Linked DNA regions of Homo sapiens. The protein of the gene in region 3 purifies or fractionates together with the protein of the main gene of each other region. This does not show direct contact. Each region holds a gene or a part of one and is shown on either strand. Other genes may lie near its edges. The genes, in order: DNAJC11, RAB4A, SCCPDH, PAIP2, CPT2, WAPL and ATF6.

What was found.
Region 1: the proteins of SCCPDH (region 3) and DNAJC11 fractionate together in Homo sapiens (co-fractionation; one large-scale study listed by BioGRID). This does not show direct contact.
Region 2: the proteins of SCCPDH (region 3) and RAB4A purify together in Homo sapiens (affinity purification with mass spectrometry; 3 studies listed by BioGRID and IntAct, with this or other methods). This does not show direct contact.
Region 4: the proteins of SCCPDH (region 3) and PAIP2 purify together in Homo sapiens (affinity purification with mass spectrometry; 3 studies listed by BioGRID and IntAct, with this or other methods). This does not show direct contact.
Region 5: the proteins of SCCPDH (region 3) and CPT2 fractionate together in Homo sapiens (co-fractionation; one large-scale study listed by BioGRID). This does not show direct contact.
Region 6: the proteins of SCCPDH (region 3) and WAPL purify together in Homo sapiens (affinity purification with mass spectrometry; 3 studies listed by BioGRID and IntAct, with this or other methods). This does not show direct contact.
Region 7: the proteins of SCCPDH (region 3) and ATF6 purify together in Homo sapiens (co-immunoprecipitation; one large-scale study listed by IntAct). This does not show direct contact.

Annotation. Positions count from the first base shown.
Region 1 is NC_000001.11:6,642,817-6,646,316, forward strand, and holds part of DNAJC11 (dnaJ homolog subfamily C member 11), read right to left. Parts: intron 3,163-3,500; coding exon 2,973-3,162; intron 2,311-2,972; coding exon 2,225-2,310; intron 1,859-2,224; coding exon 1,742-1,858; intron 1-1,741.
Region 2 is NC_000001.11:229,295,111-229,298,610, forward strand, and holds part of RAB4A (ras-related protein Rab-4A), read left to right. Parts: intron 1-737; coding exon 738-800; intron 801-2,371; coding exon 2,372-2,526; intron 2,527-3,500. UniProt on the Homo sapiens protein: The small GTPases Rab are key regulators of intracellular membrane trafficking, from the formation of transport vesicles to their fusion with membranes.
Region 3 is NC_000001.11:246,737,909-246,741,408, reverse strand, and holds part of SCCPDH (saccharopine dehydrogenase-like oxidoreductase), read right to left. Parts: intron 1,238-3,500; coding exon 1,108-1,237; intron 1-1,107.
Region 4 is NC_000005.10:139,344,854-139,348,353, forward strand, and holds part of PAIP2 (polyadenylate-binding protein-interacting protein 2), read left to right. Parts: intron 1-3,500. UniProt on the Homo sapiens protein: Acts as a repressor in the regulation of translation initiation of poly(A)-containing mRNAs. Its inhibitory activity on translation is mediated via its action on PABPC1.
Region 5 is NC_000001.11:53,199,824-53,203,323, reverse strand, and holds part of CPT2 (carnitine O-palmitoyltransferase 2, mitochondrial isoform 1 precursor), read right to left. Parts: intron 2,606-3,500; coding exon 2,525-2,605; intron 1,002-2,524; coding exon 895-1,001; intron 1-894. UniProt on the Homo sapiens protein: Involved in the intramitochondrial synthesis of acylcarnitines from accumulated acyl-CoA metabolites.
Region 6 is NC_000010.11:86,511,793-86,515,292, forward strand, and holds part of WAPL (wings apart-like protein homolog), read right to left. Parts: intron 1-3,500. UniProt on the Homo sapiens protein: Regulator of sister chromatid cohesion in mitosis which negatively regulates cohesin association with chromatin. Involved in both sister chromatid cohesion during interphase and sister-chromatid resolution during early stages of mitosis.
Region 7 is NC_000001.11:161,846,320-161,849,819, reverse strand, and holds part of ATF6 (cyclic AMP-dependent transcription factor ATF-6 alpha), read right to left. Parts: intron 3,372-3,500; coding exon 3,240-3,371; intron 1-3,239.

The DNA.
Region 1 (3,500 bases), about 240 Mb from region 3:
GTAGAGATTAGGAAGAGAAAGCTGGACAAATATATGAGCTGGAGATTGAGGGGGTGGTCCAAGCTGGCACTTGCAACGTGAGTCCTCAGGGCATGAGAGCCATGAGGCTGGACATGACTGCTTGGGAGTGAGTCGAGAGAGAAGGGCTGTGCCCTGCAGTGGTGCCTCCATTTAGGGGTTTGGGAGACAGCAGCCATCTGGTACGGAAAGCCAGAGCAGGGCGTGGTATCCTGGAAACTCAGGGCAGAGAGGCTGTAAGGGCAGGAGGGAACGGCCACCGCGACAGCAGGTGCAGAGACCAAATGAGATGAAGAAGAATCACCCTCTGATCTGCCACAGGAGGGAGGGTGCCCCACTGATGAGGTGAGAAAGGCTGATTCTGGAGAGGGCTGGTTTTGCTGGAGAGGCCTGACTGGAGCACGTTTAGAAAGAAAGAAGACGGATGCAAGCGAAAACAGACATTTTTTTTTTTTTTTTTGAGTGGAGTCTCGCTCTGATGCCCAGGCTGGAGTGCAGTGGCGCCATCTCGACTCACTGCAAGCTCTGCCTCCCGGGTTCACACCATTCTCCTGCCTCAGCCTCCCAAGTAGCAGAGACTACAGGCGCCCGCCACCACGCCCGGTTAATTTTTTGTATTTTTAGTAGAGACGGGGTTTCACCGTGTTAGCCAGGATGGTCTCAATCTCCTGACCTCGTGATCTGCCCGCCTTGGCCTCCCAAAGTGCTGGGATTACAGGTGTGAGCCACAGTGCCCGGCCAAAACCAGACAACTCTTTTGAGGAACTAAGGAGAGGACAGTGACTAGACTCAGGTGGAGCAAGGGTATGTGTGCCAATGGAAACCCCTGGTGAGAGGGATGAACCGATATGGCAGCTGCTACTGGAGATGCTGTGCCCGGGGGATAGCTGCCAGGCCAGTGACTCCAGGAGGACTGGGCTGCTAGGATGCATCCTGTGACATCAGGCGAGGCTGCTGGAGCTCAGACGTACACCTCACTCACTCGGTGTTGGAACTATGCACTGCTTGACATTTGCTTACTCAGCAAAGACACAAGCAACTGTATTTTTTTTTTGAGATGGAGTCTCACTCTGTCACCCGGGCTGGAGTGCAATGGAGCGATCCTGGCTCACTGCAAGCTCCGCCTCCTGGGTTCAAGCGATTCTCCTGCCTCAGCCTCCCGAGTACCTGGGACTACAGGCACCCGCCACCACCCCTGGCTAATTTTTTGTATTTTTAGTAGAGATGGGGTTTCACCATGTTAGCCAGGATGGTCTCGATCTCCTGACCTCGTGATCCACGGCACCTGGCTGAATTTTTTTTTTTATATTTTTTGAGACGGAGTCTCACTGTCCTCCAGGCTGGAGTGCAGTGGCACGATCTCCATCTCAGCTCACTGCAACCTCCGCCTTCGGGTTCAAGCAATTCTCCTGCCTCGGCCTCCCAAATAGCTGGGATTATAGGCGTGTGCCACCACGTCTGGCTAATTTTTGTATTTTCAGTAGAGATGGGGTTTCACCACGTTGGCCAGGCTGGTCTCAAACTCCTGACCTCAGGCGATCCGGCCGCCTTGGCCTCCTAAAGTGCTGGGATTACAGGCATAAGCCACTGCACCTAGCCAAGCAACTGTGTCTTTAAGAACAAAATTACAATGCAAAGGCTATTTCAGCCTTAACTTGGGTAAAGCCTGGTTGAGTGAAGGTGACAGGCATTCCTTGACCCGAAAGGCCTAAGTTCAACTTACTTGACTTTGAGAGAAACACCCTGTGGAACTCCAACGCTGACAGCTGCACCCAAAACGCTGTGCCTGGAGATCTTCCTCTCAGCTCCGTACTCCACCACCGTCCCAAAGAAGCCTGCTCTGCAGGGAGAGAACGCGGTCTGTGCCTGTGCCCCTCATTCATCACTTCAGGGGCAGCTGTCATTTGAGAAGAGGCCAGGTACCTTCCCTTCCCTCCCTCCAGCCTCCTCGACCCCCAGGGAGCAGATTCATGACAGAAGAAAGTTGGGACACCCATGGTCTAGTTCTTCCACAACACTCTCTAAGCTCCTCAAGGGCTGGGACTGTAGTGTTAAATCCCCCACAGCCTCAAAATAGGAAGCTCTCCAAAAATGTCACACACACGTAGATATTCACACGAGCAAGGTGTCTTACACCAACTGGTTCCACTGTGAAGACCCGCATGCAGTACCAGTGTGCTTCCATTTTAGCCAGGCCAGGACTTACTTGAGGGATCCTTTCACACGAGTCTGATCGTCATCTTGGAATTTGTGCTGATAGCTGATCAGTGCAAAGGAGTGAGGGATTCCCAGCTGGGGAGACAGAGGGTGCAAGGATGCGTGGCTAGGGCGTGTGACTCTGTGGGGAGATGGGTATCTGCCCTCCCACTAGCTCTGGGCATCTGCTGCACACAGGCCTTTAAGGCAGGGGTCACGGTCTGGCAGCCGCAGTGAGTGCACCATGATTTATTAGCAGCCAGTAATTAAAAAGTGGGAGACTTCACTGAAAACCCAGTTTTCTAGCTTCTCACAAGAAATAAAAAACTCTGGTGACACTGAGCCTATGCTCCTAGGTGGCAGCGGCTGGTGAGAGCCAAGGAGCAGTGGCCCGTGTGGGGCTTCTCATGTACCAGCCCTGGTGTGGCCACAGGGGCGTCCGAGGGCATGATTCTGCTATGGGGCTTCATCTGCCCGCCCCCAATTCCGTGGGTGGCTCCCACCAGACATTAAGATGTTGTTCTGCTTTAAGATGATCCAACAAAGCTGCCCCAGGCGCCTGAAGGCAACTGCATTTCATACTCGAAGGTTCCACCAGGTCACTCGAGTGTGAGCACCGAGAGCCTGCCCCTCAGGGCCCTGTATGGGCTTAGACTTAGTGGTGATCAGGACGCAGGATTTAAGGGGAGCACTGAGTGCTTGGGAGGAGGGGTCCTCCCAGAGCTCTGTCTGCAGGAGATGATGGCTGCTCGGCTCACCTGCAGGGCCACAGTGAAGTGGCTGGTTTTAGTGTCTCGGACGATGCTAGTGTTCATGGCTGACTGGATACCCCATCGCCACTGCAGGTAGCCCACGGTGTTCTTGTCTAGGTTCCGAGCTAGGACAGTGGTCAGGCCGGGTCGGATTCCACGGGATGAAAACTGCAGAGCACAGTTTGTTGTCACAAAGCTGGAGAGACACAGAGACAGAATAGGTCCTGGATAGCACCTGCTCTCAGCTGTTCTGTTACTTCCTCTCTGCCTGGCTAAGACCTCACTTACTGTCACGTCTATGCATCCCTGGGCCAGCTCCCAGTAAAAAAAAAAGCAGGAGGTCAGGCCTCTATCCACACAGAGGGGGAGGGTCCTAGCCAGAATCTTCCTAGTAACCTCCCGACTCCCCTCAGCCGCCCTAACTTTAGCTACAACCAAATAGGCACCTGACTGTCTGCATTCCTATGCCAGCAGATGCAACCCCACTCAAGTTAGAATGGATGGGGGCCGAGGAGTGCAAGTCAGAATCACCAA
Region 2 (3,500 bases), about 17 Mb from region 3:
TGCCATACCTGGCTAATTTTTTGTAGAGACAGGGTCTCTCTCTCTTACCCAGGCTGGTCTCAAACTCCTGGCCTCAAGCAGTCCTCCCTCCTGGGCCTCCTAAAGTGCTGGGATTATAGGTGTCCGGCCACTAATGGGAAAAATCTCACAAAGAGGGTGAGATTGACAATGTAGGGGAAAACATGTATGACCAAAAGACGCCTTCTTGAATGTGAGAGTGGATATGACATACTGGGACACTCAGTTTTCCCGTAGTAATAGGGCAGGGATGCAGGTGGGTGTAGGGCCGTGGTGACTATGGATTCCTGTGGTGACTATGGATTCCACCGCGCCGAGAGGTGGCGAGAACTGGAAGAGATGGAGAAAATTGTGCCAGGGAGTGGGGTAGATGAGGAGCTCGCAGAGAAGTGAGTGGATTGCTGAGCCCCTTAGTGTCCATCTAGGGGGTGGTGCTGGCTTCCGCAGACAGCTCACCCTGCTAGGAGTTCTCAAAGGAGACATCCATCAGAGAGCTGCATCCGCTGTGAAGGAATCTCCTACTTGCCACAGTGATGTGATTTCAGGCAGAATAACCCCTCACATGTATGTTCAAATATCTTTGAATCATTTCTCTTTTAAACCAGTGTCTGTCCCTGTGTTGTGGTTTACAAAGCAAGCATGGGTGTTTTTTCATGGGAAAGTGGGATACAGTAAAGGGTCTCAATTGGTTGAAAGTAAAACCAGTATAATTCTTCCAGGTCCGTGACGAGAAGTTATTACCGAGGCGCGGCCGGGGCTCTCCTCGTCTATGATATCACCAGGTAATGCCAGCTCCCCCTGGTGAAGGAGGGTGCTCAGTGCCCTGCAGCCCAAAGGCTGGTCTTGGCGAGGTGCCCTCCGTGCAGTGTGTGCTTTGTGTGTCCAGGGACGGTGGTGTGGCTGGCATCCAGGAAGCCCCTTAGCCCTTCCATCTGGGGTCTCAGAGGTCTTTGAACGAGCCCCTACCACTGCTTTCCCCTGCAGAGAAATGTGTTTGTAAGGTTTTAGGTGGATAAAGCAATCCATGCTATTACATTACATTTCTTGACATGATGCTTGGACACTTTCCTTAAGGTTCACAAAGCTTTATGTATGGAAAGTTATTAGAAGTGAGTTGAGAGAGGGTGAGGACACAGACTCTGGGCTGAGATTGCTGGGTTCAAATCCCAGTTGCAGTCACTAGCTGATTGACCCTCTCAGGCCAGGTGCTTCAGCTGCCTGGGCCTTAGTTTCCTTGTCTGTAAGATGGAGATAGTAATAATCACATGATCCTCAGGAGGTTATTGGGAGGTTTAAATTAGTTAATGTGAAGCAGTTAGTAGCTGTTTGTGACATATGGCAATTTAACTGAAATAAAAAATTCTGTTCCTCGATTGCACTGGCCACATTTCAGGTCCTCAGTAGCTACATGTGGCTGGTGACTACCATATCAGGACAGATTATAGAACATTCCTATCCATGAGGAAATCACATTCAGCAGTGCTGATCTCAGTAGCACTGTCTTAGAAATGTGTCATCTAAATGGCATCATCTGGGGGCCCTTTCTGGGTAGGAACCTGTCCAGTGAGAGGATGTCACTCAGCAGCCGCTTCCCTCTTCCAATCTGTGTCCCGGGAGCCAGGCGTTCTGAGAGGAGGAAGGCAGTTTCTGGCCCAGCCCTTCCTGCACTTGCCCAGGCAGTGAAAGGCTCAGCCTGCTAAAGTGTGAAGTCATCAATCAGGCTAGCAAAGTGCCATGAGAAGAACTCAATCCTTAGACACATGAGGGCCAAAAATAGTAAGTCTGAGAGTTGGTCCTGGAGTCAGACAGAGCTGGTCAAGTCCTGACTTTGCCACTGGCTGCTGTATGACCTAGGGCAACGTAATTAATCTCTCTGGGCCTTGGATTTCTCAGAGAAAAGGGGAATAATGGCAGTCTGTGTCATGGAATCTTTATAAAGAATCAATGTGATAAAGTCCTGTAAAACAAAGTGCTGGCACATTGCAAGGATTCATTAAGTGGCAGCAATTAGCTATGAAATCTTGCCTACCAGAGTCTAGTGCCTTGCGCATGCTAAGAGCTCAATAGATATTTGTCAATTGAATGAAGGAACATCTCTTTCCTTTTGCCCCATGACTGGGCAAACGAAAAATAACAAAATATCTCACTTGCTGTCTCATTTTACCAGAAACAAAATGGAACAAACTGTGGGTATGGTATATACTTGGTGCATTCACGTTGTCTGAGTTATCTTAAAGGTGTTGGTGCCATTACCCTGAAATGTTGAAAAGCGGTATGAGTAGTGAGAATGACTGGAAAGAGTTGCTAGTTTTATAAAATACATGTATTATTTTCACAATCTTATATTACGCAGCCGAGAAACCTACAATGCGCTTACTAATTGGTTAACAGATGCCCGAATGCTAGCGAGCCAGAACATTGTGATCATCCTTTGTGGAAACAAGAAGGACCTGGATGCAGATCGTGAAGTTACCTTCTTAGAAGCCTCCAGATTTGCTCAAGAAAATGGCAAGTGACCTTTTACTTCTTACTATTTTTCAAATCGCATATTTGAGGATAATAGCATTTCTTTGAATTTAAAACATATATTGGAATTTCAAGATTAAACTAGATTTAGGAAATGTGGAATTTCCAATTGTTTTTTTCTATAAATTAGACCTATTAAGCATATTTTTAGTATATTGCATTCTGCCTGCAGAAGTTACTATAATGATAAAAGCAAATGTAGTAACATTATGTAATGACTTTTCAGTCTAGGGTCTTTGAATATTAGAGATCTTGGGCTAAAGTGAAATTAATAATATTTAAAGACTCTAACCAAATGATGTCATTATTTTTTAATGTATTTTGAAGGAAATTTGGTGAAATATTAACCCAAATAGAAAGGGAAGCGGAAGAAGAAATACTTGGCTTTTTGGCTTCATTTTAAGTCATTTGGTTATAGACAACTTTGAAACTTTTTTGAATTTCCATATAGAATACATGAAAATGCCACATAAAATTAATGGTTGCTTAATTAATGGATAAGAGAATGATTTTTTAAAACTTCAGACATTTTAAATAACTTTAATTTTTAGAACCAAAAACTAGAATCCTAATATCAATATTTGGACTCTAAGATTCCAAATTATATTGTAACTTGACTAGTTTCTTGCTAAGAAAATAAACATGAGAGAAATCCATATGCCATCATGACAGTTTTTAAAAAGCTGTTTAGAAATCAGAAGTTTAGAATGTTAACAAAGATGAAAAGGAATTTAGATGTCATCTAAACTCATTTTTACAAGTGAGGATACAAGAGGCTAGAGAGGCCATGGTTTGCTGAGAGAGCAAGCAGAACAGGCCTTTCTGCTGAGATGAACAGCCACTCTGGTGGGTAGAAAGAGTATTAATTCCTATACTGTCTCTTCATGGGCTGTATGACAGATTGCAATATAGTCCCCTAAAAAGTGTAAACACTTGTAGGTCATATTTGTGGTGAC
Region 3 (3,500 bases):
GGGAGCACTGCCTGAGCCCAGGCATTCGTTACGGTGAGCTACGGCAGAGCAAGATCCTGTCTCTTAAAAAACTTTTTAAAATGGCACTGGATTAAAATTTTATATAGTATTTTCTTTTTACTTTTAATTTCATAAGCAAGATTTGTAGTTTGTGTGTGTGTGTGCTATCTTTGTTGGACTTTGGTTTCATAGTTATGCTAACTTTTTAATATATGCTGGAACATTTTCCAATTTTTTAAGTCTAGAACACTTTATATGGTACTGAAGTTACCTGTTTCAGTTTTGTTTTTTGTTTTTGTTTTTTTGTTTTTTTGCTTTTTTCTAAGAGACAAGGTCTCACTCTGTAACCCAGGCTAGAGTGCAGTGGTGCAATCATAGCTTACTAAAGCCTCAAACTCCTGGGTTCAAGTGATCCTCCTACCTCAGCCTCCTGAGGAGCTGGGACTGACTACAGGTGTGCACCACCACACCTGGCTAATTTTTTTTTATTTCTTAGGGACGAGTCTTACTATGTTGCCCAGGCTGGTCCTGAACTCTTGGCCTCGAGAGATCCTGCTGCCTCAACCTCCCAAGTAGCTAAGATTATGGGTGTAAGCCACCACACCCTGCTCAGGTAATTTTCTAAACCAGACACTCTTAAATATGCAAAACATCAGTAACTTCAAATGTTTTATCGTAACATTATTTTCTCCATTCTTAAATAAGTGTCTCCAATTCTGTGTTCAATACTTTCTAGCTTTGACGGTTAAAAATTTAAAACCTTTTAACTATAATATACAAATTATGCTTTAAAATGTGCTGATTCCTAAACAAAGCAAGTTTGAATTTATAACGTTGCCAAAGTTGTTTTCCAGAAATTTTACAGCCCAAACTATACTGAGACAATAATATATCACTGTAAAATACAGTATTATCCATGTCTCAACAATAGTCTCAATAGCATTTTATTAAAAGTGCAGCTATATTAAAAACAAAACATGTGTTTAATATTACCCATTTATGGCTATGTTTCTTTTTTCAACTAGATTTTAGTTCACCACAGTTAGAAACATGAAGCCTTTGCACGGTACTGTTAAATTCCATTATTGCTTATTGATCAATAATTACCATTCATTTTATTTCTGGTATATATTACTCCCAGATCTGCTGGAATGGAGTCAAAGCCGCTGCTTCCAATGATATAAACCCCTTTGTCTGCAGCTTTCTCATGATACTTCAGTTGCATTAGTTCCAGAAACTAAAAAATCCAGGATAAGAATTTTAATTAGTTATGCAGAAAGATGTAGACCAGTATTAAATAATTTATCTTTAAAAACAAAGCAACCAAACTTTGAAAATGCTAAGCAGTGTGGCTCTGCAGCAAAACATTAACTGTCAAAATATTTTCCACTTATTCGGCAAATACAGCGCCTACTGCACACCAGGTGGTACAGAAGTTGTGCTCGTCTGACTGTATGACACTTAATTTTTTTAGAATGACTTTTAAATATAAAAGTAATGCCTATTATAAAATATTAAAATATAAAAAATAGAAAGCAAAAAAAAAATGACCCCAAACAGCATTACCCAGATGAACATCATCACAGACATAAAGCTCCGCACACGTACAGACAGAGAGCAGGAAAGTAGATGGTGGCAGAGGGCACAGGGGAATAATGTCTGCTCTGCTCTTCTGCCTGTTTTTAGAAATTCCTTTTTAAAAACAGTTTAAGATTTACAGAAAAATTGAATAGTAGAGAGTTCCCAAGTACTCTGAAACCCAGTTTTCTCTATTTTTAACATCTTTTACATGAACAGTGGTTACAATTAATGAACCAGTACTGACATATATGATTTAATTCACTAAAGTTCACAGTTCATTCTGATTCCCTTAGTTTTAACTGAACCCCTTTTTCTGCTCCAGGATCCCATCCAGGATTACATTCGGTTGTTACGTCTCCTTCGGCTTCTTTTGGCTGCGACGGTTTCTCACACTTTCCTTGTCTCTGATGACCTTGATGGTTTTGAGGAGTACTGGTCAGGCATTTTGTAGAGTGCCCCTCTACTGGAATTTGTCTCATGCTTTTCTCATTATTATTATGAGTTTTGGAAAGAGACCACAGGGGTAAAGTGCTATTCTTATCATATCATATCACATCGGGGCTACGCACTGTCAACATGATTTACCAGGGTTAATGCTGACTTGAACACCTGGCTGAGGCAGTGTTCACCAGGTTTCTCCACTGTCAATTTATGCTCCCTCTCCCAGAAGGTGACACACAAACACAATCACACCTGTTCAAGCACATACCAGACACAAACACACACCACACACACCCATTCATGCACATACACAAACACACACGAACACAATCACACACACACACTTGCTCATGCACACACAAACACATTAAGTCACACTAACATAGTCACACACATACAAACACATTAACACACTCAGTCACACACACAGCTGCTTGCACATAAATGTGGAGAAGCTACATAAATCATTTGGAATTCTTCCACAAAGAAGATTTGTCTCTTCTCATCCCTGCCTTTTTGGTTTTGTTTTGTTTTGAGACGGAGTCTCGCACTGTTGCCCGGGCTGGAGTGCGATGGTGCAGACTCGGCTCACTGCAACCTCCACCTCGCGGGTTCAAGCGATTCTGCTGCCTCAGCTTCCCGAGTAGCTGGGTTTACAGCACCTGCCACCACGCCCAGCTAATTTTCTATTTTTAGTGGAGACAGGGTTTCTCCATGTTGGTCAGGCTGGTCTCAAACTCCTGACCTCAGGTGATCCACGTGCCTCGGCCTCCCAAAGTGCTAGGATTACATCCCCTGCCCATTTTTAAAATAAATTGTCTTTATTTCTATTATTGTCTTGTAAAAGTTCTTTAAATACTCTGGGTTTTTTTTTTTTGAGACGGAGTCCCACTCTGTCGCCAGGCTGGAGTGCAGTGGCATGATCTTGGCTCATTGCAACCTCCGACTCCCAGGTTCAAGCGATTCTCTTGCCTCAGCCTCCCAAGTAGCTGGGACTACAGGCGTGCACCACCACGCCCAGCTAACTTTTGTATTTTTAATAGAGATGGGGTTTCACCATGTTGGCCAAGATGGTCTCGATCTCTTGACCTCGTGATCCGCCTGCCTCGGCCTCCCAAAGCACTGGGATTACAGGTGTGAGCCACCGCACCCAGCCCTCTGGTTCTTTAATAGGTTTGTTGTTGTTGTTTTGAGACAGGATCCGACCCTGTTGCCCAGGCTGGAGTGCAGTGGCGCAATCTTGGCTTACTGCAACCTCCAACTCCTGGGTTCAAGTGATTCTCATGCCTCAGCCTTCTGAGTAGCTGGGATTGCAGACGTGCACCACCATGCTTGGCTGATTTTTGTATTTTTAGTAGAGATGGGGTTTCGCCATGTTGGCCAGGCTGGCCTCAAACTCCTGGCCTCAAGTGATCCACCCACTTTGGCTTCCCAGAGTGCTGAGATTACAGGTATGAGCCAACGTGCCCAACTCCTTA
Region 4 (3,500 bases), on a different chromosome or scaffold from region 3:
TTTAACTGCCCTAAATATTTAATCACCGAGATAGTTAATGCCAATTGTTATGTGCTAGGTTCTCTAACTAGGTACTATTATTAATTCCCATGCAACAGATGAGGAAACCGAGACTCAGGTTAAGTAACTTGCCATGGTCACACAGTTAGTAAAGCAGCCTGGTTCCAGAGCCCATGGGTTTTTGTTGTTGTTGTTGTTGTTGTTGTTTTTGAAACGGAGTCTTGCTCTGTTGCCCAGGCTGGAGTGCAGTGGCGCGATCTCGGCTCACTGCACGCTCCACCTCCAGGGTTCATGCCATTCTTCTGCCTCAGCCTCCTGAGTAGCTGCACCCGACACCACACCTGGCTACTTTTGTTTTTGTATTTTTAATAGAGACGGGGTTTCACCGTGTTAGCCAGGATGGTCTCGATCTCCTGACCTCGTGATCCAACGGCCTTGGCCTCCCAAAGTGCTGGGATTACAGGTGTGAGCCACCGCGCCCAGCCCAGAGCCCATGTTTTTTAATCGTTACCTTACTGTGCCAAATAGTAAAACAAAAAATTCGGTGCTTTTCACAGACTTCAGAGTGGAAAACAGACCAATTGAAAAATGTTGCGATCCTCTTTAACTGCCAAAGGAAGTATGCTTAAACGTATATATGCGTAAAATACGATTAAAAAATATGCAAATAAGGTAAGGATCACAGTGGTTCAAAACAGAGTCCAAGGGAATGAGAAAAGATGGTGCCTATGGAGGTAGATTAATGAAAGAAACAGAAGAGAACTATGCTTGAATTTTTTTTTTTTTTTTTTTGAAACGGAGTCTTGCTCTGTTGCCCAGGCCTGAGTGCAGTGGCATGATCTCATTTCACTGCAAGCTCCACCTCCCGGGTTCATGCCATTCTCTTGCCTCAGCCTCCTGAGTAGCTGGGACTACAGACGCTTGCCACCATGCCTGGCTAATTTTTTGTATTTTTAGGAGAGATGGGGTTTCACCGTGTTAGCCAGGATGGTCTCAATCTCCTGACCTTGTGATCCGCCCACCTCGGCCTCCCAAAGTGCTGGGATTACAGGCGTGAGCCACCGCACCAGGCCTATATTTGAATTTTAATGAGAATTCTTAAAAGATGAAACTAGTGGAGAAAGATTGTAAAACCTAAAAGATTTCTGTATTTTAAAATTCCATAGACAATATAAAAGGACACTGCTGGAAACCAATATGTCTAAGAGGCATTTCAGGAGGGGAAAAACAGCTGAAGACACAATAAAGCCCTAAGTTGATAAATTGAAAGGGTTTGCTGACTTCCAGGCAGTAGTACTGGGAAAAAATTGCTCTTACCTATCCAAAATCTGGTGAAATATATGAATTTGTTAAAACATCTTAAGCTGTCGTCTAGAACAGGATTTTTAAATTTTTATTTATTTTTTTGAGACGGAGATTTGCTCTGTCACCAGGCCGGAGTGCAGTGGCGCAATCTTGGCTCACTGCAACCTCCGCCTCCCAGGTTCCAGTGATTCTCCTGCCTCAGCCTCCCCAGTAGCTGGGACTACAAGCATGTGCCACCACGCCCAGCTAATGTTTGTATTTTTAGAGACGGGGTTTCACCATGTTGGCCAGGATGGTCTCAATCTCTTGACCTCATGATCCACCCCCTTGGCCTCCCAAAGTGTTGGGATTACAGGCGTGAGCCACCGCACCTGGCCTATTTTTATTTTTTGAGATGCAGTCTCCCTCTGATGCTCAGGTTGGAATGCAGTGGCACCATCTCAGCTCACTGCAACCTCTGCCTCCCAGGTTCAAGCAATTCTCCTGCCTCAGCCTCCCGAGTAGCTGGGACTACAAGCGTGCACCTCCATGTCCAGCTAATTTTTGCATTTTTAGAGACGGGGTTTCGCCCAAGTTGGCCAGGATGGCCTCAATCTCTTGACCTCGTGATCCACCCCCTTTGGCCTCCCAAAGTGCTGGGCGTGAGCTGCTGCGCCCAGCTTATTTTTATTTTTTGAGATGCAGTCTCAGTCTGTTGCTCAGGCTGGAATGCACCATCTCAGCTCACTGCAACCTCTGCCTCCCAGGTTCAAGCAGTGCTCCTGCCTCAGGCTCCCGAGTAGCTGGGACTACAGCTGTGCGCCACCATGCCTGGCTTAGTTTTTGTATTACTAGAGATGGGGTTTCACCATGTTGGCCAGGGCCGGTCTCAAACTCCTCACCTCAAGTGATCCACCTCCCTTGGCCTCCTAAAGTGCTAGGATTATAGGTGTGAGCCACTGCACCCAGCCTAGAACAGGATTTTTAAAAGGAAAGAAAATTGATTTTCTACAACATTGAAAGTTGGAATTATTGACAATAGATTATCAACAGGAAGCACAGACATCTCAGAATTCTGTTACAACTAATTTTTTTTTTAGCACATTTACATGGAAATACTCATGTTACAACTTTTTTTTTTTTTTTTTTTTTTTAAGACACAGTTCCGCTCTGTCGCCCAGGCTGGAGTGCAGTGGCGCGATCTTGGCTCACTGCTACCTCCACCTCCCGAGTTCAAGCGATTCTCCTGCCTCAGCCTCCTGAGTAGCTGACACTACAGGCGCCCACCACCATGCCCGGCTAATTTTTGTATTTTTGGTAGAGGCAAGGTTTCACCATATTGGCCGGGCTTTTCTAGAACTCCTGACCTCAAATGATCCACCCACCTTGGCCTCCCAAAGTGGTGGGATTACAGGCCTGAGCCACCACGCCAGGCCATACAACATTTTTATTCAAACATGAAGGCAAAAGATGTTTTGTAGCATTAGGAGATACACCTAATGCTAAATGACGAGTTAATGGGTGCAGCACACCAGCATGGCACATGTATACATATGTAACTAACCTGCACATTGTGCACATGTACCCTAAAACTTAAAGTATAATAATAATTTTTAAAAAACTGTGGTACATCCATAAAAAAAAAAAAGATGTTTTGGACACTGGCTTAGAATGATAAATCCTCAGGTAGCCTTTTGAACTATTTTACAAAGATAGGAAGTTAGGGGAAGATGATGAATATAAGAAACAACTCGGCCAGTGTGGTGGCTCATATCTGTAATCCCAGCACTTCGGGAGGCCGAGGTGGGCGGATCACCTGAGTTCAGGAGTTCTAGACGAGCCTGGCCAACATAGTGAAACCCCATCTCTACTAAAAATACAGAAATTAGCCAGGCACAGGCATGGTGTTACACACTTGTAATTCCAGCTACTCAGGAGGCAGAGGTTGCAGTGACCCGAGATCGTGCAGCTGCACTTTAGCCTGGGCAACAGAGTGAGACTCCATGTCAAAAAAAAAAAAAAAAAAACTACGAGTGATGAATTTATTTATTTATTTATTTATATTTTTTGAGACAGGGTCTTGCTGTGTCACCCAGGCTGGGGTGCAGTGGCGTGATCTTGGCTCACTGCAGCCTCTGCCTCCCAGGCTCGAGCAATTCTCCTGCTTCAGCCTTCTGAGTAGCTGGGACAACAGGGGACCACCACCAAGCCTGGCT
Region 5 (3,500 bases), about 190 Mb from region 3:
GCTGTGAAAATAAGGGGATAGGAAGTATGTGTATACACATCCCACATATGTGGTGGGATGTAAAGTACTGCTGAATTCTAATCTTCTACAGTGAGATGTCAATAGCTAATGACTAAAGCAAAAAAATCAAGATGCAGTAAGGTAAGTATCTAATTTAGAGATACGGGGGTATATAACAAAAGATTTAGGAGCTGAAAGTGAGAAGTGGGAAATAAGATGATGAGGAAGTTGCTGTTTTTCCTAACAAGCCTTATAGAACTGTCTGATTCTTTAAACTATATGCATGTATAACCTTGGTAAATATATAAACTAAATTAAAAGAAGTGCTGTAGGAACAGAGGTGGAAGCAACCAACTCTGAATGGAAAGGAAAAAGGACTGAGAAGGTTTCACAGAAAACCATCCTCCTTGGATCTTAAAAGAAGAATTTGCCAGGCAAAAAAATGGTAGTGGGAACAGCATGGATAAAGGCACAAAAGAATGAAAGACTAAGGGTTCAGGGAGCAATGAGGAGTTTAGCAGGAAGTATGTCAGGGTGGGTGGTGAGAGAAGAGGCTGGAGAGGACAGTTCTGTCTGACAGTGAAGGACCCAGAATGATATAGGACATAGGACTTAATCCTGCATCCTTTTCAGACAGGACCATTGATTAGGTTCTGCCTCAATCCCATCTACAGAGAAGGCTGGCCATCATTCTTGAGCATGGGCTCAAGTCAACACCTCAGTAGAGGAGGAACACACTCAGCCTTAATTTACCTCAGGAAGGGAGGATGAGACGTTACTTCATTTGCTGGTCTCACCAAAAATATCTCTGAGACCAAAACAGGAGAGAATATGCCTTACTTTTCATTATGGAGGGCTCTGGGAGAAATCATACCCACAGCCCAGCCTACCTACCCGAAATGTAGCTTGTATGTTTATTCTGTTTGTCCAGAGCAACCAGCTGCTCATGCAGTTCTTTTCCAATCCCATTTTCAAAACTCTTGCAAAATTGTTCTGTTTTCCTAAAACATTCAAGAAAAGACAAAATCAAACCATGGTAGGGAATACATGATTTTTAGGTTCATGGCGAGGAACTCATAATAGAGTTTTGGGTCCCCAACAGCATAGCCCTAAAACCTGGAATGAGATCAGAAAGTACCTCTAACCAGAACAGGAATCAATCTAAAATTGATAATCTAGACTACCTTCTTAAAATGAATGATTAGGAAAATCAATCAACATCTCACAAAATAATCCATATCCTAGGAGGCAGTTTGGCATGGAGAAAAGGACACAAGCTCTGGAGTCAACAGAAGTTAAGTCTGAATCCTAGCTCTGTTGCTTTTCAAACTGTGTGATCTTGGATAAGTTACTTGATCTGAGTCTCGGTTTCTTGATGTGTAAAATGGATAATAATACCACTTTACAAGATTAAAAATATTTATAAAGCTAAGGATTTAGAATATCCTAAAACATAATACTCAATAACTGGTAGCTATTACCATATCAAGAGAAACTTTAAATGACTAATAACAAATATTTGAAAACAGAGGCCTAGATTATGGATAATTCATCTGCTTCTCCATCACTGTCCAGTGAAGAGTTCTGTGATTCCAACAACAATGCCAGTTACCTGTACAGAAAAATTTCCATTATGGAAAAAGAGTACTACACTAGGCTATAAGAGCTTAATGCAATCCACTTTTTGACAATATTTGATATTATTTTCCAATTCCATGCTGTATTTGCTTCCTAGGACTGCTATAACAAAACACCACAAACTGGGTGGCTGAAAACAACAGAAATTTATTCTCTCACAGTTCTGGAAGCTTTAAGGACAAAATCCAGGTGTCAGTAGGACTATATCTTCTCTGAAGACTGGGGAAGAATCTGTTGCATGGCTTTCTCTTAGATTCTGGTGTTGCCAGCAATCCCTGGCATGCCTTGGCTTGTTGACACAGGCAGAGGACACAATCTCTGCCTGTGTCCTCACACCGCTGTCTCTGTGTCTTCTTACAAGGACACCAGTCATATTTAATTAAGGACCCACAATACTCCAGTAGGACCTCATCTTAACTAATTACATCTGCCACAACCCTAATTCCAAATAAGATCATATACTAAATTTCATGAAAAAGGGCATAAATTTTGGAGGCATGCTATCCAACTCAATAAACATGCTCACGATGCAGACTTCTGGTCTGCCGTATGGTCTCCTCAATGGACCTCCCTTCCAAGGGTACATGCTCTCTATAAATGACCAGGACCAGCGAGCCTCCCAGGTACACCTGCTAAGGGAAAGTACACATTTGGCATTCTGGCTTATAAACTATCTCCTGTTGAGCCTGTTTAGAGGAACTCTCGGGGCTTGGTCAGTCCTTCATGAATGAAAATCTATTTCCTGAACTTGCAGATGTACAACTAGGTTCTGGGTTCCTGGAGACCCAGCCACGTCACAGACATTCCCTGAAGCTTGGTCCACCACTACTTGCCAGCCTGTCTTGAACCACCCCAACTATGCTCACCCAAGGTTCTCAGTGTTTACCTGAACTGGCCATCATTCAAGAGAGGCTTCTGTGCACTGAGGTATCTCCTAATGGTGTCTTCAAGTTTGGGAATAGGCAGCCTGGGGAGAAAGCAGGGTCAGTGTAAGGCTGACAGTATATGGAAGAGGTTAATTAGCTTTACAAGCTAATGAACTGATTACTAGATCATTAATTTCCTCCCCCAAAACCAATAATCAGAAGCGACTGACAAATCAGAATCAATGGGTTTACTAATGCCAAGTATATCAATGGTAACTCTACTTTTAAGTAAAATAACAACTAAATCTTTAAGTAAAATACAAATATAATTATTTTAAATAACAATAATAGATTCAAAATGGGGAAGCAGAAGCTGCCCCAAGAATTCCTGTTTTCTGGTCACAATGATAACACCTGTGCTAACACTGTATTGGCCCTGATTTAATTCTACCCTTAGTTTGAACAACTGCATTTTTCTCCCCTAGGATAAAATGAAAAGGTTCTATTTTTTAAATTTTCTTCTGCATTTTACAACAAATAATTATATAAGAGTGAAACACAGATCTGTCCAAGGGCCAGCCATATATGGGGGCTACAGTCACTAAAAGGTAGGAATCGACCAGTGAGCCATGCCCAGATACCAGGAACGCCATTAGGAAGAACCAAATAGTCCCTGTGCTTAAATAACAGGAACAGCAATTTGCCTACTTATCATTCTGTCTACTAGTGATTCCCAAAGATGGCTATGGTGATGAAGTTACTGGCTTATTGTGAAATGAAAACACATGGACAGTAAAGTGAGGTGTATTTTCTCTTTCAATTCATTGGTTTTATTGAAGGAAATATCCCCTAATAGCAAAACAATCAGAGTTTGTTAGGCTGCCTCTACCAACTCAAAATTAACACTGATATGCAAAATACTGAAATGTATCAGTCATTTAGGAAAACTGAAACATGATACATAAAGCAGTTTAAAAGCCTAATATAAGATATACT
Region 6 (3,500 bases), on a different chromosome or scaffold from region 3:
TGGTGGTGAACCATTGTACTCCCAACTACTGGGGAGGCCGAGGAGGGAAGATGGCTTCAGCCCAGGAGGTAGAACCTGTGATAAGCCATGCACTCCAGCCTGGATGAGAGAGTAAGACCCTGTCTCCAAAAAATAAAAATAAAAATAAAAAAAGAAATAATAGGTCTTATCCACTTCTCTTAAAAAGAAGCTGATTTTCGGTATGATTTAAATATATTCTACACAACAAATACATTCAATAAATAAAGGCAGGTAACTCTTGCTGATACTATCCTTTCAGGACTTAAAAAATAATAATAATCCTCATATCATCTGTACTTTATCCAATGACAATCTCATCTCAGATCACAAGTTCCTGTCCTACTTTAAACTTTCAGTAATAAAACATTTCCCTTTCTAAAAAATCACCTTCAGTTCTAAATCCAAGTTCAAAATCTCCTGACAATACCATCCCTCTAACTTACACAAATACTCATTACAGCTTTAAGCAAATTAAAAAAATTTATTGGCTACAAAACCAGTCAGGCAAATTAAGAGCCTATGCTGTAGTTATCTCAATATTTGGCAGGATATGTAGACTGAATCCCAGCTGGCTGGCAAGAAAAGTGTGCCAAGCCGAAATATAAGTCTTTGCACACTTTATTCTAGAGTCCAGATTAAAAACCTGTAGCAGAACAAAGATGAGAAATGGAAGTAGCCTTGCATAAAAGGCAAGAGAAGCCTTCTTTTTGCCTCTACTACCGACGGCATTGATTCAAACCATTAAGGAATACCTGGAGATCTCTTAGAAGGGTGGACCTTTAGCTCCTGCTAACAGTCATTTTTAATTGGCACACCTGGCTGAGAACTGACTGGCTTTAATAGCAACTGCAATCAGAAATTTCTGTTTTCAAAATTAAAGATTAGATACAGAAGTATTTGCAGATAGAAACAGAAATCTTAAACTAGCTTTAAAATCCAGGGAGTAAAGGATGGGAAGTGGAGAGAGTAGCGTGCAAAACAGATGCAACAAGATCTGCCAGATACAACTATTGGAGGTGGACAATCAAGTACATGAGGTTTTTTTTTACCATTCTATTTTTGTGTGCCTGAAAAGTTTCATAATAAACGTTTTCTTCTTGTTTAAGGAACAGGACATTTTAGCAACACAACCCTTCCCTGCAGTACCTATTCAGTTTGTAATCTTGTTTCTGGTTCCCTTACCCACCAAGCATCTGTCTGGAAAATGGGAACTACTGTAGGTTTTGCGGGGTTTTTTTGTTTTTGTTTTTTGAGATGGAGTCTCGCTCTGTTGCCCAAGTTGGAGTGCAGTGGCACCACCTCGGCTCACTGCAACCTCTACCTCCCCGATTCAAGCAATTTCCGCTAATTTTTTTGTATTTTTAGTAGAGATGGGGGTTTCACTATGTTGGCCAGGCTGGTCTCGAACTCCTGACCTCAAGCGATTCACCCGCCTCGGCCTCCCAAAGTGCTGGATTACAGCCACTGTATGTTTTATAGTGACCTCATCCTAAGTTTCCTCTTCAAGTGAAACACAATTTATTTATTTACTTATTTATTGAGTTGGAGTCTTGCTCTGTCACCCAGGCTGGAGTGCGGTGGCATAATCTCAGCTCACTGCAACCTTCACCTCCGGGGTTCAAGCAGTTCCCGCCTCAGTGTCCTGAGTAGCTGGGATTACAGACATGCGCCACCACACCTGGTTAATTTTTGTATTTTTTTTAGTAAAGACGGGGTTTCACCATGTTGGTCAGGCTGGTCTCGAACTCCTGAACCTCCCCCAAAGTGCTGGGATGACAGGCATGAGCCGCCACACCCGCAACAAAATTTTTAAAAGTACTATCCGTTATAAAAGTACTTAAAGAATTTTAACAGTGTCAAAAAAATCAACCACATACTCCCCTATAGAGAAAGAGATGCACTTAAAAACGTAATGCCAGGACAAATGACATAATAATTCTGAGCCTGGATAAGCCCTTTTCACTGAGGTGATATAATTCTACAGCAAAAAAATAGTATGAACGAGAAGGACACTCAACACTCCACTGGAAAGATATGACGGAACTTCACCTGTGCACTTTGAATGAGTTGTTAAAATTTGCAACAGGTTTTTAAATAAAATGCCTAACCATGACCTGCAAAAGACTGCTAAGATTTCTGAGACCCAAGTAGGTACATGAATACTTGCATCTGGAGAAAAGAGTTCAAAACTTTATCATTCTCAGAAGGGTCCCTAAAGCAAAAAAGGTTAGGAACCACTTGAGATTTAGAGAGGCCTCTTTTATCAAAAATTTAGGTTTGGGTTTCTAAATTTCAATTAAAATTACAAGGTTTTCTGAGTGAGAGTAAAGGCAATGAAAATTGACAGACATAATGCAAGAAAACAGTCTAGGCACAAGAGAAATGACCAGTTTAGAGGGGAGAGACAAAGGAAAAGTCACAAAGTACAAAAGCATCCCCACAACTATAACAAACTTACAAACATACAAACTTACAAATGGTTTATAAGAACAACTAACTTGCACACATTAGAGACAGGATAAGTCTACCATGAAAATTAAATGCACTCCCTCAAATTCACTTCTTATCCTACAGGGAGCTGCCAAGGTTGTTGCAACTCTGGATGACCAAGGGAGAGGAGAAAAAAAGAAATATTCATAGTGCTACACCATTCCCTGACCACTAAGAGACCCTTTGTGAAGGAGGAAGGAAGATGGACAAGATGTTCCTGAACATCTATTTACCTGTATTTTAGTATGTATTTTCCCCTCACAGACCAATTAAAATGGAGTTTGGACTCAGAGTCAGTCCACAGTATCAGCATTAGAACTACATTTTAGCTACATAGACTGGGAAGCAATTATCCCACTTAGCTGGTTGGTCTCACCAACCAACTTCCAACAACAGATTTAACATAAAGATATATTGTCCGCAAAGCTACAGAAACAATTACTTATGAATAACTTCCACATTCCTTTTCCCCCTTACCTAAACGTTCAACTTTATTAATACACTCTGCCATCAGGGCCCCTGCCTGCCAATGATGCCCCATTCCTCAAAAGACCATACACTTAAGGAAGATGGAGTCAGCCCTGAGCACTTTCACCACTTGCACAGTTTAATCTTACTTCCTCCGGCCCACCCACCCCACACTGTAGATTATCTGAAAACATCAAGAAATGTCAGGCTGGGCACAGTGGCTCACGCCTATATTCCCAGCACTTGGGGAGGCCAAGGCGGGTGGATCACATGAGGTCAGGAGTTCTAGACCAGCCGGGCCAACATGGTGAAACGCCGTCTCTACTAAAAATACAAAAATTAGCAGGGCATGGTGGCAGGTGCCTAAAATCCCAGCTACTCGGGGGGACTGGGGCAGGAGAATTGCTTGAACCCGAGAGGCGGAGGTTGCAGTGAGCCAAGATAGCGCCATCGCACTCCAGCCTGGGGGGACAAGAGCGAGACTTCATCTCAAAAAAAAAAAAGAAAAAAAAGAAATGTCA
Region 7 (3,500 bases), about 85 Mb from region 3:
TGTCAAAGAGACTATTGGATATGTGACTCTGGAGACTCAGAAGAGAAGTCTGGACTGAAAACATAAATTTGAGAGTCATCAGGACATATAGATATGAACTGTGCATGAAATTATAGATGAGTCACCTAGGCAGAAAGAAAATAAAAAAAGTTTACAGTTCCAAACCTTGAGAGTTGGGTAAAAAAAGAGCCCACAAAGATTACTGTGAAGCAGCAGCCAATAAAAAAAGGAAACTAAAAAACCATAGTAACACAAAAGGAAAGTCTTTCAAGGAGCAAATGACCCACACAGCCAAATGCTGAGGAAAGGGCAAGTAAGATGGCAGAAAGCACTGGCCCCTTAACAGAAATAACTCTGGCAGAGTGGAAGGCTAACTTCAAGTTAAAAGTTAGAGATAGCTATTTATGCCACACACGAGAGAAAAGAAACAATAGCAGAGGATATATAGAACATTCTTCCCTGCAACTTGCACCAGGAATATTCTCAATGTCCTCTCTTGTGGCTGTAAGGGTTAAGTAGGTTTAAGTTGTTTGGAATAAAACAGACATGTTGGTGCACAGGTAATGAATGCAAACACAAAAGGATCAGCCTAAAATGAAGCATTGAGTGAGAAGGAAAAAAAGTATCTGTCTTGTGTTTGATAAATCTGAATGCCTCTAAGAGGAGGCTGCTTAACACCTCTTCTTATAAATCTATGACATACGCATTATTTTAAAAATCATGCCTGCATACTTAGAAAAATACAAACACTGTAGTCCATGAGAAAAGTCCAAAACTGCTTTTGAAAATATATTTGTGATCTGAACTCTAGTAATGATTTCTGCACATCTGTGCTAACTGGCTTTGTTCTATCAGCCAAAAATATTCTTTGGAAAAAAAAAAAAAAAGTCTGATAGGAGAAATACCAGGACAAGGATTGGGTGGAGTTAAAGGAGAGAGAAAATCAGCCAACATACAATCTGGAGACAATTAGACCAACATTAGCCCAGGAACAGTCAGAGTTCGAGTCTGCTTGCAAACATTTTATGCCAAGAGAAAAAAATTCAACAAATAAATCATTAAAGTAAATAAAGTAAAGGACAGTGCTAGGGAGCTAGAGTTAATGAGAATTCTTGGAGTAAAGATCAGTTCTGGGTGACATCTTATATAGGGTGACCATCCTTTCTCATTTATCCAAGACAGCAGTACTGGTATTCTGATGTAATTATTACTAGCACTACCTTTCCTTCTTAAGAGTGTCCCAGTTTGATAGAACATTATATGGTCATACTATTTATATGCCACACATTTCTATGACTGAAAAAATATAAGCAGTTAATTACTAAATGATAGGCTAATACAATATTATAAACTATGGGATTAGAATCTACTCATTTTTTATTTGAACCATGTCTCATAGCTCTCCTTAGAAAAAGAAACATAAAGTAAGCTGCATTAAAAAAAATGTATAGGTATCACGGCTGAAAATAGATAAAACATCTAAAATTCAGTTCAGAACACAGAACAAAGTAATATTAGGTGCTTTCAAATGTTTCACAAACATTTTTTGGTATCTTTTATTCAGTATTTATACTGATAAAATCAAGAACATCAAATTAATGGACTGACATTTATTTAAATCTCTCAAGTTGCTGAAAAATATTTCAAAGGACTTGCATGGAATCAAGAATCCATAATCTTTCCTGGGTTGTTTTTTGGTTTTTTTTTTTCCCCAAGACCAGTAACCCAGATTATTCACTCAATGGTGACTTTGGAGAAGGGAGGGAAAAAATAGCTTGCATCCCATGTACTACTCTGAAAGCTGATAAATTTCAGCCAGAAAGTCATTCAGACTTTTAGTTTGAACTAGTATGATCAGACTACTATGCTTTCTGGGAGCCACCATGTTATCTTATGCTAATGTGGAAGGCTTCTACTTGCTGCAGTTAGTGCAGAATAAATAATATTCTTGTAAAGCTTACCTGAACTGTAATTTCAAGCATTCAATCCATAACTTGTTCTATTCTTTAGCAAGACGCTATCTCAACTCTCGTAAATCCAAAGGCTATTAGATTTAAATTTAATTTTTGATGGATCTTATGTGGACACTAACAGAATTCAAAATTATAGAACACGTAGGGCAAACCTGCACAAATTACTTATGAAAATTAAATATACTATTAAACTCTACCAATATTCAGGGGCACCGTTAAGAGATCATCAAGGTGAATATTTTAAGAAGTATGATGAATTTTGGCATGTAAAAAAGCAGGAAATGCTATGTTTTCCAACATTATGACATCTATCATTGCTATGTTGCGTTGCAGCTACTGCCATAAAATCCTTTGGGTCCTCCACTGACTTGGCATACTGTACTCCACAAAAATAACAGTTTTTTCAGGAAGGCTAAGTGGAGACAAGCCTGCAGGATTGTGGTGATCATCTTTCAACAGTATGGATGTAACACAGTAAAAATCAGGAAGAAAGATTGCCCTCAACCTACAAATCCTTAAAGAGATAAAAGTAAACAAATCTGTAATAATTTTCAAGCATTATACTGTGCAATAGTTACCATACTGTGACCTCCCTTTGCCTTGTTAGTCAAGGACCTGGCTCCATTTGGCTCTAATACAAATTCTAAATAACACAGGGAAATGTTTATCAAAAAGTATACAACTATAAAAATGTCCACTATACCTTCTTCTAGTTAACATAATATAGAAATTGCATTTTTATACAATTAAAGCCTTTTGCTATTGACAAGCAATATGGAAATTTATCAAGTCATTATTAAATTGCAACAAGGGAGGGATTCAACAAAGATCACAATAAATGAGTATAAATGATTTTACCTAATGACTGCAAATAGGTTCAATCATGTTATTCCACCATATCATATCCATCCACAGGTGAGACAGTAACAAATATTAGATGTATTATATGTATAAACACATGATAGATAAAATAATTATTAAAGACATTATATATAATATGTATATATTTCAATATGTATATTAATGCACACAAACTGAGATTTTAAGATTACATCTCTATAGGAATTTTAAAACTACAAAAGGTTTCAAAGTAAATTTAATTTTACAATATTAAAAGTAAAATGTATTAATGGTTTCAGTAATTTATGTGTTCTACTACTCAAAATATACACGAACAATTTAGATGCAATGTTATACTACAGATAATTCTCTTGTTTCAGCTTCATTAAATCACTTAGGCCAAAAGATAGATGCATGCCATCTTACCTGTAGCTGTTTTTCTGGATAATACCATCTGATGTGTCCTGTGCCTCTTTAGCAGAAAATCCTAGAAGGTGCCTCCTTTGATTTGCAGGGCTCACACTAGGGTTCATTCTCCTGGAATCCTGTTCCAACATGCTGAAAATAAAAAACAGGAAATAATAGCTGAAATAAAAATATGTCACACATATGCCTGCTACATGCAGCTGTGAAACAAACCACAATTCCTTTGCAGATCCATGCACGTAACAAAAATGCTAGGCATAG